Linked DNA regions of Homo sapiens. The protein of the gene in region 1 interacts with the protein of each later gene in a biochemical or structural test. Each region holds a gene or a part of one and is shown in the gene's direction. Other genes may lie near its edges.

Region 1 (3,752 bases):
ATTGTGAATAGTGCCACAGTAAACATAAGTGTGCATGTGTCTTTATAGCAGCATGATTTATAATCCTTTGGGTATATACCCAGTAATGGGATGGCTGGGTCAAATGGTATTTCTAGTTCTAGATCCCTGAGGAATCACCACACTGACTTCCACAATGGTTGAACTAGTTTACAGTCCCACCAACAGTGTAAAAGTGTTCCTATTTCTCCACATCCTCTCCAGCAACTGTTTCCTGACTTTTTAATGATCGCCATTCTAACTGGTGTGAGATGGTATCTCATCGTGGTTTTGATTTGCATTTCTCAGACCTAAAACCATAAAAACCCTAGAAGAAAACCTAGGCAATACCATTCAGGACATAGGCATGGGCAAGGACTTCATGTCTAAAACACCAAAAGCAATGGCAACAAAACCAAAATTGACAAATGGGATCTAATTAAACTAAAGAGCTTCTGCACAGCAAAAGAAACTACCATCAGAGTGAACAGGCAACCTACAAAAATGGGAGAAAATTTTTGCAATCTACTCATCTGACAAAGGGCTAATATCCAGAATCTACAATGAACTCAAACAAATTTACAAGAAAAAAAAACAGACAACCCCATCAACAAGTGGGCGAAGGATAGGAACAGACACTTCTCAAAAGAAGACATTTATGCAGCCAAAAGACACATGAAAAAATGCTCATCATCACTGGAAGCTCCTCTTTTATCTGCTTTATATACTGATTTTCCTCTTATCTACAGAAAAAAGTATTCTGATGCAAACACACACACAAAAAAAATTTTAAAGCTACTATTGGTTGACCAGTTTCAGTGACTCAAGCCTGTAATCTCAGCACATTGAGAGGCCGAGGTGGGCAGATCACTTGACCCCAAAGTTTGAGACCAGCCTAGGCAAAATGGTGAAACCACATCCCTACAAAAAAATTAGCCAGGCGTGCTGGTGTGCGCCTATAGTCCCAGCTACTCAGGAGGCTGAGACAGGAGGATTGCTTGAGCCCAAAAGATCGAGGCTGCAGTGAGCTGTGATCATGCCACTGTACTCCAGCTTAGGCAACAGAACGGGACCATTTCTCTAAACAAACAAACAAACAAACAAACAAAAGCCACTATCCTAGACGATTTCTAAAGTCCTTTCTAGCTTTAACTTTCTAAAATCCTCGTGATTGCCTCGTCTTTATGATGAAGATGCCATTTAGTGAAAACACAGACCACGGATATCTCATAGGAGGCTATGCCACGGCCGTCTTTGTGAAATTACTGCAACCTTCTTGACAGTGAAATATTCTATCCTTCAACAATTGCTTTGTGGGCAGGTAACCAAAGGGCTAATATCTGATGTGAAGGCTGGATCATGAACCTCCCGGTTGGGTTCTACATGTACCTTACCTCAACATCCGGGTCAACATGAGTGGAAGGGGCTTGGTGCCTCAGTTTCCTCATCTATAACATGAAGAATTGGTCTTCACATCTCTGAACCTCTTGTCAGCTTTTCAATGCCATAATTTATATCAGTCCCTGGTGCTTGATCAAATTTAAACGGTGTGAATTCCAGACAAAGAAAAATTAGACCTCCAAAGAAAATATGGGTCTACAGAGACATATCAAGATGTTATAAATATAATGTGATGATGATAAATATGCACTGCTGTATCAAATTCTTAAATAGAAAAGGATAATAACAAAGTAAATCAAAACTTTTTAGAGAAAACTTCGTTTCCTAGGATAGATGGAGTGACAGGTCCCAAGTGATGTGCCAACCTTTTTTCTCCCAAGCTTCTTTGAAGAGATTATCTAAGTATCGTTTCAGACACCCATCACCCTTATTTTTAGCTCTGAGTTCTCTTCACGAGTGTGGTGACCTGTGGCTCTAAGTTCCAGAGGCTCCCAGATATGGCACATGACTCATTTGCAGGTACCCTGCAATGATTTCCAGGAAGGTCAGTGGGGTGGGGGCCTGGAGAAATGATTTTTGATGTTAAACCCTTAGCTCTTGTTCCTGTTCCAACCACTTGATCAGAAATGACACACTTCATAAATTGATCCCTTGGTGCCATAAGCAATTGGCAGTGCAAATAGAACCCAAGTGATTCGGTTCTCCAAGAGGCTCACAGCTGGCTGGGGGGTTGGGGGAGACAAAACTCAGGGCTTTGGTCACAGTCTATTTTCAGCCCCTGATAGCAGTTGTGTTACTCACGTCTCATTCACCCTCTCCCTTGGCCTCCCTCCTGCCCTTCCCCCAGCAGGCCAAGGCTGGTGACAGCCTTCATATATTTAAAGAGGACAAGAGCCCCTCAGACTCAGTTGAGCTGAACGGAGTCCACACAGGCAGGTGAGTGGAGCAAGGCAGACATTTGAGCTGGAGGTGGGTTGGTTCTGTGGCTGGTTTGGACTATAAAGGGTCCCATAGAGTAAGAGCACATTTTACGTCTCAAGTGCCAGCACCCTCTCTGGTTCTGTGCAAGGAGGCTCAAGTTGTACTTGACTCTGGTGTGGATCTAGCAGGTATTAAAAAATTCCTGCAAGGATGGTTAATATTTAGGGGGCTTAAGGGACCTCATAGGCAGATAAATGAGTAAAGAATTATCCTCATTATAAAACTACTTACGTGGTGGAATTACATTTCCTGTCATCTTAGTTGGAACAACTGGAAAGCGGGAGGAAATAATGGAAAGTCTGCTGACCTTCTCGTCTTACAACCACCATATAATTCATGGATGACAGACTTTGAGAAGGTTCCTGCCCTCAGGGGCTTGGTCTCCTCTTCTGCAAGGATCAATACAAATTGGCGACATTTTTTCCAAACTGTAAAGTACTGCACAGATACAAAGCGATAAGCGATTGTACTAGATGCAATATATAAGACAGCTTTCCCATGCTCAATTTACCTGGAATGGTGTTATTCAAAAGGTCGTGGTGAATGACTGAGATTTTGGGCTTGTTGATTTTAAATAGACTTTTGTATCCCAAAGATATTCAGCAACAAGTTTGCTTTTAATCTTTTGAAATTAATCAAAACTGGACCCCAAAAAGACATTGCTATGTTGAAATATATTAAAAGCTCTATTAAATGGGAGGATAATTTATCCAGTGGTTAGGATTCCCACTGTTTCCTCTAGGTTTTAGTCAAGGACTTTTTAAAATATCCCAGTGAATGACAGACATAGGTGTGATTGAGAATAAGAAGAGGTTTTAAGCAATGGTCTGAGTGGAAATGCTGCTGAAAGATCCAAGCTGCCGACTCTAATTTCTGCCCTGTTCCTGAGCCAAGGTGGTGACTCCTCCAAGAAGGAGGAGTTGAGTTACTGGTCTGAGGAACCTTGTCTCTGCAATACGATTCAATGTAATTTAATAAGCATGTATGGACCATCTCCTATGTCAGGGCTGGAGGGAGGTAGAGGCAGCTCTATGCAGGGAAGGGTATAAGTGAACAGCACGAAGAGTGGGAAATTGGGGATGGCCTGTGTCCTCAGTTTACATCTGGGATTAAATCTCAATGCTGGGTACATACAATTCATCACAATGCATGTAGAACTGCTTTATGATCCAGAAAATGTGAGGGAGTCTTATGACTTGGCTTTGTTCCCTTTCTGAACAACTCAGTCGTTTGTGGTCAGTGGCAATGAGCCCAGGCTATTGGGCAGGAGGTGTAGCTGAGCCCCAGGGCTTTGTGTCCTCCCTGGGGTTCAGGCAGACAGGTGCTCTGCAGCCCAGACACACGTGTCATCCATCAGAAACAGGAGACACAGG
Region 2 (3,752 bases), on another chromosome or scaffold:
ACCTAGGACACTATCTGGCACTTAGTAGGTACCCAATAAATGCTGAATAAAAAAAATTAGTCATTTTTATCTTAATGTTCTTAATGATTTTTATCACAATAATCTTAGTTAACTTTTCAAATTGTCTTCACATTTACAAGAGACAACATAAAGTGTGGTTAAGAGCACAAGCTAATTTTCTATAATAGATGTTAGATTATACCCTGAGTTGCTGAAACTTTCAATCTGCAGTTTTAATTGCTGACTTGAGCAACCAAGAAACTGGCGAAAATAGAAAAAAAAAAGTCACAGAAGAAGTATTGGCCTCTTGCAACTCTTCTCTCTCCTTCTTACCATTCCAAAAATCTAAGAATAGTATTAAACTTGATAAGGAATAAAAACAGCCAAAAATATCAAAGCTTAACATCCAGTCTGTGGCTCAATAGAAACTGTGAAGAATCATCTTCTAGAATAGGCGACTTGATTAGCTAATTTCTAAATTATCTGACAGTTGATTTCCTGCATTATCTTCACTCTATTCATTTTTTAAAATAAAGTCATAAAGAACACAGCTTATAATCATTACTGCTTGGGGTAGAGCAATAAGATTTTATGTTCCCACATAGTTTTTGAGGCACTGACTATAAAGACCAAAACCAAGGTCAACTGACATCCCAAAGGCCAGTTACAGCTAGGAAGTCTTTCTAGAGCTCTAGGAGGAAAGGTGAAAGGAAGGGAAAGAACAACAAAACAGAGAGAGGGAAGAAAAAGAAAAACCTCTCCAACAGCTATGCTTTATTTCATTCATAGGAATGAGTCTTTGCCCTAACATGGCTTTATACTACAAATGATAACTACTGTTCATCAAGCAGCTATGTGCTATGTGTTTCACATGCATGGTATCATTTGATTGAATCCTCACTAAAACTGTAAGGAAACCACTATCATCTTGAAGACATCAAGATCTAGTACTTACCCATGGATATATACATAGAAATTAACCTTGCTAGGACTTGATAGTTCTTTGGAATCTAGGGCCCCCGCACTTGACCTTCATATTGTACTGTCTCCCGAAGAACAATACATGTATCTTGTGGACCATGGGCAAGCTGCAATTTAAAAAATGCTGTTTCCTTGCTCGTGCCTTGGTTGCTAACCTTTCTCACTTAAATCCTATCAAACAACTTATTTGGAGTCAATGGATAGTGAGAATGCAAAAGAAAAAGTGGTGAGCACACAGTGTGCAGAACTGGAATCATAAGAGAGGCACCTTGGAGGGGGCCACAAGTAAATGCTGAAATATCAAGTAGCTGTGGTGTGAGTCTTGTTTTCACTAAAACTATTTTTAAGGAGGAGTTACTACATGTATTGTAACCCCATCCTCTATCCCACTCCCTACCTCATATGTAATACTGCTCCACAAATGGAAGGGTACAGAATTCAGATCCTGGTTGCCCCTCTCCCCAAAGGAAAAAAAAAAAAAAAAGATAGTCAAGGACGGTCTCTATGGAAGGACCCAGAGAATCATTTCATCCAGTATCATGGGATGTGAGCACCCTTCAGCAACCCCCTCCATTTCCCAAATCATCTTGCAGCCTTAGTAAAAGAGAGGAAAGAGATTTACCTGCTTCTATTGAGGTTGAAGCCTGAAAGTCATGTATAACCTTTGAAGCACTGTAATGGTTTTAATCACAGGAATAGCATCTTTTTGAGAGGCAGGAGAGAGAAAGGAGCTGAACCACTCTGCAAATATTAACCCGGCTATTTTGGAGCAATGGCTATTGCCTTTGAAATCTTTCATCATGGGTCTATACTTAGAATTCAGATGAGCGCAGGGGGAGGGGAATAGGGCAATGTTAATCCCCAGTTGTTTTGAAGTTGTCCTGTAAGCAGGTTAGTATCTAAACTGCCCAAAATGGAAGGGTTCAATGCTTTGTTTAAGTTATGTGATTCTCTCTGTGTAACCTGGTCTGCACATAGATTGTCACAACACTCTGGGAGGTGACACTTCTCAGTTTTCTTTCAAACTAGATGTTCTAGAGAGCACTAGCTGCAATCACATTGGGAGACTGATGCTCCATGACAGCTAAAAGTTGGATTGAGTTTCAGGAGCTACTATATATAAAGCTGGGTCGACTTATGTCACTGCACTAATTAAATGCCATCTGGGTGGTTCCTCTGGGTTTTTGAGTCCATCACCCAGTTCAGATCGAGTCAGAGGCCAAGGAGGAGAACATGATGATGGACCTTTTTGAAACTGGCTCCTATTTCTTCTACTTGGATGGGGAAAATGTTACTCTGCAGCCATTAGAAGTGGCAGAAGGCTCTCCTTTGTATCCAGGGAGTGATGGTACCTTGTCCCCCTGCCAGGACCAAATGCCCCCGGAAGCGGGGAGCGACAGCAGCGGAGAGGAACATGTCCTGGCGCCCCCGGGCCTGCAGCCTCCACACTGCCCCGGCCAGTGTCTGATCTGGGCTTGCAAGACCTGCAAGAGAAAATCTGCCCCCACTGACCGGCGAAAAGCCGCCACCCTGCGCGAAAGGAGGAGGCTAAAGAAAATCAACGAGGCCTTCGAGGCACTGAAGCGGCGAACTGTGGCCAACCCCAACCAGAGGCTGCCCAAGGTGGAGATTCTGCGGAGCGCCATCAGCTATATTGAGCGGCTGCAGGACCTGCTGCACCGGCTGGATCAGCAGGAGAAGATGCAGGAGCTGGGGGTGGACCCCTTCAGCTACAGACCCAAACAAGAAAATGTAAGCCTAGATGCTGCCGGGGCAGGGAAATGCGAAGGCTGATTAAACGCCTTCCGCGGGGCCTTAACCTCCAGCTGCTTGGTCTTTTTTCCCTTCCCCCTTTCTCGCCCGCCCCTCCCGCTCCGTCTCTAATGAACCCCCAGTGACCCAAGAAGACCGGGTGCTTGCAATAGGCAGGAAATGCGTACCCGGCCCGAGGAAGCAGGAAAGCCGCCCCCCACCCCACCCCAACCCCGGAACCGATGTTTCTTTCCTAATCTGCCGCTGCCTTGGTTTTCCCTCCAGCTTGAGGGTGCGGATTTCCTGCGCACCTGCAGCTCCCAGTGGCCAAGTGTTTCCGATCATTCCAGGGGGCTCGTGATAACGGCTAAGGAAGGTAAAGTAAAAGGGCTCTGGGCCGCACCAGAGAAAATCCGGGAGGTGGATAGGATGCTTGGGCCGAGAGGGCTCGAAGCGAGAGCAGGGACGCGCCCTGCGAAAAGGGCGCTCTTTGCGCGCCGGGACCAGGCCTTTCCTCGCTGCCAAAGCGGCCTCGCGCGGGGCGCGGAGCTGCTTCGTGTTCCTTCTTTGGGTGCTATGTTTGTGTGTTGTTTTTTCGCTCAGGAGGAGCAAGTATTGATTCGTCAGCCTCGAGTAGCCTTCGATGCCTTTCTTCCATCGTGGACAGTATTTCCTCGGAGGAACGCAAACTCCCCTGCGTGGAGGAAGTGGTGGAGAAGTAACTGAGCCTGCGCTTGAGACCTTCTCCACGCAGCAGGAAGATCCCACCGACCCTTCCTGGCCTAATCCTTTAGATTAGGTCACATTACATTAACATTTAGGAACCCAGACCGAAAAGTTGCTGAAAGGGAAGGAGACACATTCACAAAGAAACGTTGCGAAAATTGCGAAATCTGTTGTGCATGCTCAAATGAAAACGCCTTTCGGCTTTGGGCTTTTATTTTTTTGGAACTGCGAGTGGCTTAGGTCTAGCCTCATTTTGTTTTTGTTTGGTTGGTTTTATACTATATTAACTTTTA
Region 3 (3,752 bases), on another chromosome or scaffold:
GCCAAGGGATCTTCAGGGGACCATGTATCCCACAGTTGTTAGTTAGCCACCTCATTTTGCATACTTTCTCAACAAATTTGCTTATCCTCTTTGATGGGCTTGTCTCATACTAGTCCTCAAAGTTTAGTAAGTAAGGCAAGGCATCTTTCAGCAACTTTCCCCCCCATCTCATTTTAGGCTGTCACATTTACAAGTTACTGTCGAATTGGGCCACCTTCTTTTATTTTACTTATTTATTTTTGAGATGGAGTCTTGTTCTGTTAACCAGGCTGGAGTGCAGTGGAGTGATCTTGGCTTACTGCAACCTCCGCCTCCTGGGTTCAAGCGATTCTCCTACCTCAGCCTCTTGAGTAGCTGAGATGACAGGCACCCACCACCACACCCAGCTAATTCTTGTATTTTTAGTAGAGACGGGGTTTCACCATGTTGCCCAGGCTGGTCTCAAACTCCTGATTTCAGGTGATTCGCCCTCCTCAGCCTCCCAAAGTGCTGGGCTACAGGCGTGAGCCACTGCACTCGGCCTGGGCCACCTTCTTAATTCCAGAGAGAATGCCCGGCACTGTTGAAAGAGCCACAAATGCACACGCACACCTACGATCCAAAGCAGAGGTCAGAAAGCCTTTTCTGTGAAGGACCAGATAGTAAATAGTTTTGGCTTTGTAGGTCATATTGCCTCTGTCACAACTAGCTGGAAAATGGCCATAGGCAGCACGTAAGTGAATGAGCATGGCCATGTTCCAATAAAACTTTATTTACAGAAACAGGTGGTGAGCTAGATTTAGCTGGCTATTGATTTGTGTTGTCTTAAGACAACCCAGTGTACAAAAATCCAACCAGATAAAGAAGAGTGTGTTTAAGACAATTATTCTGCTTTGGAAAGCATAAACTCTATGATCTCATTGAAGTAATTATGGTTTCTGTCTCCTAAAAATGTACCTTGATTTTTAAAAAAGAAATTAATTTAAACAGATTTTCAGAATACTTCAAAATTGGGTATCTAGGTCTTTGCCAGCATTTTTGTGATTTTTTTTTTTTTTTGCTTCAGTGTCTTTCAAACTGTGTGATGACTCCTTTGAATAATAGCACCCTTTTTCCTGTTATTGTAATATTTTAAAGAATTATTTCCTGTGTTAACTGAACTAGGCTCTAATGTGACTGGACGGCATACGCTCGCGGGCTGCTGAATGTGAGGGTTTTGACTGCAATAATGTCTGTCAGTGTTTTTTTGTGGAAGGAAAATAGAAAGCTTAAATGGATAAATGTAACTCTGAATGCTCTTTCTTGCTTAGAAGACCCAAACTAAGATATGTAAACAACTGCGACAAAGTATTTGAAGCCTATAAAAAGAATCCTTTTCTAAGTGTGTATCCTACAGTATTTTACTAGTATAACCTAATTTTGAGATGTTTTCTTTGCACCAGGTAGAAATACTTTAATGTTAATTGACATGAGGTTATTCTTAAATTGAAACAAATATTAACCTGAAGGCACCTAGGATATAAAGATGGAGGAAGCAGAATAATAATTGTGTTCACAAATTCACTCTAATCTCAAGCAACCTATGATTTTCTCTTTCAAATGGCATGAAAGAGCAGCACAAAATTCACAGCTTTGATCTTTTTCTGCTCAACAGAAGAAGTACCGTCAGCATCCAGATGCTTTGAAGTTTACCAGTATTAAAGACACTCCGGAGATGGTCCAGGCCAGAATTAGTTATACCCAAGCAGTGGATGTAAGTGATAATGTATATACATTATGACTCTAAGAGTGGGCTCTTCTTTCAACACTGCGATTGAAGCGGAGGGGTTCTTGGGTTTGCTCCTTCTGTTGTCCTAAGGATGAAGGCGCTCCCTGTCCTTTGCAGAGGCTCCCTTAGCGGGGGGTGCTTCCTCATTAGGATGCAAATGGGGGTGTTACTGCACTTAGAATGCCAAGTGGGGCTCCACCACCCCACTGCCCCAAGATGCTCTCCCTCCTTCCCATTTGCATGTCTCACCGATTCATTCGTGGTGAGGCTGTTTTCTCCTCTCCTTTTGCCTGAAAGTGTTGTTTTCAGAACTGGGTGAAATTCTTGGTAATTGGAATCCTGACGCTGTGCTTAGAGCTCTTTAGGACCCAAGGGCAGCAATTGTTGCTCTATGAATTTCCCAGAGACTTTGAACATGATTTGGGTCTGATTTATATACATCAGACTAACTTTCAAGCCATTTCCCATACTCCTTTATGATGCAAAACCAAGATTTGACCCTTTTCCCTCTGTGGGAAAGGTTGGCTGGGGTGCAGGGTTGCAGGGTCGGCTGGAGACTAAAGTGAACGATGAGGTGCTGAAAAAAAACACTTTGTGATGTAGATTAACCCTGTTTGGCTGATTCTGCTAAGAGATACCCATGGATCTTTGTGCAGGGCAAACCTGGCTTTTAAATACCTTCAAACCATTCAACTTTCCATGGGGAAAATTTACAAACCTTGGGGGCATAGCTTTCAAAATTCTCTTCCTTGTTTCCCAATTGAGCAAATGATTCTGGTTGCGCTTTATTTGACAGGCATTCTGAAACAGCCTGAGTGCCTGTCAGAATCTGGGATGGGATGATTTACAAGCTTATGGATTTAGGAATTTATAACTTCTTCATAATCAGCCCATCAGAATCAAACTGAATTCTGAGAAACACAGATGGTCAAACAAGAACTTTTGTATGAAGAAAAACAATACCTGTTTCTTCCTTATCCTAGCCAACTCTAGGGGGCACTGCTGTGATACGTAGAAACTTGGATACATCTGATAAGATTTGGGATGGAAAAACCCTGTTTGGAAACTTTCTCTGGTGGCTGATGCCAACTGCATGTGTCATTATTAACTATCAGGGTATCCGAAGCTTGGGTCAGAGTTCTGGGTAAATAGAGTCCCAGATCCACCCAGGAGACATGTCTTAGGGGAAGAATATTTGAGACGGGGGAACGGAGGAGGATTGAGATAGGGAGGAGAAAACCTCACCTGTACAAGAGCCATCTTCTTTCTCGCCTTCTGTATCTTGATGCCATCTCATAGCTGATAGTTAATCACCAAATTATTACTAGGTGTTAAGTAAACCTCGTTTTCTCATTTGACACCCATCTCAGCAGTTTACTATGAGTGGGGCGTTCACTGAGGGGAATGCTTCAGCTTGTCATGTTCTGAGCTAGGAAGCAGAGCTTGGAAATGACATGCGTGTCACCGTGCTAGCTGTAAAATCTGGGTGGAGGCAGGGTGCCCGAAATCATGTCTCTATGAGGAGGTGGCAGCTGCAGCAGCTTGGACTCTTGAAGCGTAACCTGGCTGATGGCTGCATGGAATGGGGTCTAGGTTTCATGCAAAACCTCCTTCCATCCACAGAGATTATACAGGGAACAAGGAGAAAACATAAAGCATCATTACACACCGACTGCTGACCTCCCTGAAGTCCTGCTGGCCAAGCTGAATGCCATGAATATCAGTGAGGTGAGGCTGACCCAAGGGGCACGAGTTTTAATGACGGGAGAGCGGGGCTGGTCATGGGCAGGCACACAATGCCCTGTGCTCAGAAGCCCCTGAGCTGGTTTCATGTTCTGCCATCACCACCTTGAAATATGTGATATTTTTGAACAAGGGGCCCCACATTTTCATCTGCACTAGGCCCTGCACATTATGTAGCTGGTCCTGCAGAAGAGTCCAGCTCATTTGAAAGAATGATCTGGGGACATTCTCTGCCTAGTTCAAAGAGCATTGGTTTGGAGGA

What was found.
Region 2: the proteins of CSRP3 (region 1) and MYF6 form a complex in vitro, tested with the Homo sapiens proteins (one study listed by BioGRID).
Region 3: the proteins of CSRP3 (region 1) and NRAP form a complex in vitro, tested with the Homo sapiens proteins (one study listed by IntAct).

The regions. Positions count from the first base shown.
Region 1 is NC_000011.10:19,200,536-19,204,287, reverse strand, and holds the start of CSRP3 (cysteine and glycine-rich protein 3), read left to right. Parts: upstream 1-2,304; 5' UTR 2,305-2,334; intron 2,335-3,752. UniProt on the Homo sapiens protein: Positive regulator of myogenesis. Acts as a cofactor for myogenic bHLH transcription factors such as MYOD1, and probably MYOG and MYF6.
Region 2 is NC_000012.12:80,705,506-80,709,257, forward strand, and holds the start of MYF6 (myogenic factor 6), read left to right. Parts: upstream 1-2,128; 5' UTR 2,129-2,214; coding exon 2,215-2,733; intron 2,734-3,018; coding exon 3,019-3,109; intron 3,110-3,336; coding exon 3,337-3,455; 3' UTR 3,456-3,752. UniProt on the Homo sapiens protein: Involved in muscle differentiation (myogenic factor). Induces fibroblasts to differentiate into myoblasts. Probable sequence specific DNA-binding protein.
Region 3 is NC_000010.11:113,615,435-113,619,186, reverse strand, and holds part of NRAP (nebulin-related-anchoring protein), read left to right. Parts: intron 1-1,633; coding exon 1,634-1,732; intron 1,733-3,370; coding exon 3,371-3,475; intron 3,476-3,752. UniProt on the Homo sapiens protein: May be involved in anchoring the terminal actin filaments in the myofibril to the membrane and in transmitting tension from the myofibrils to the extracellular matrix.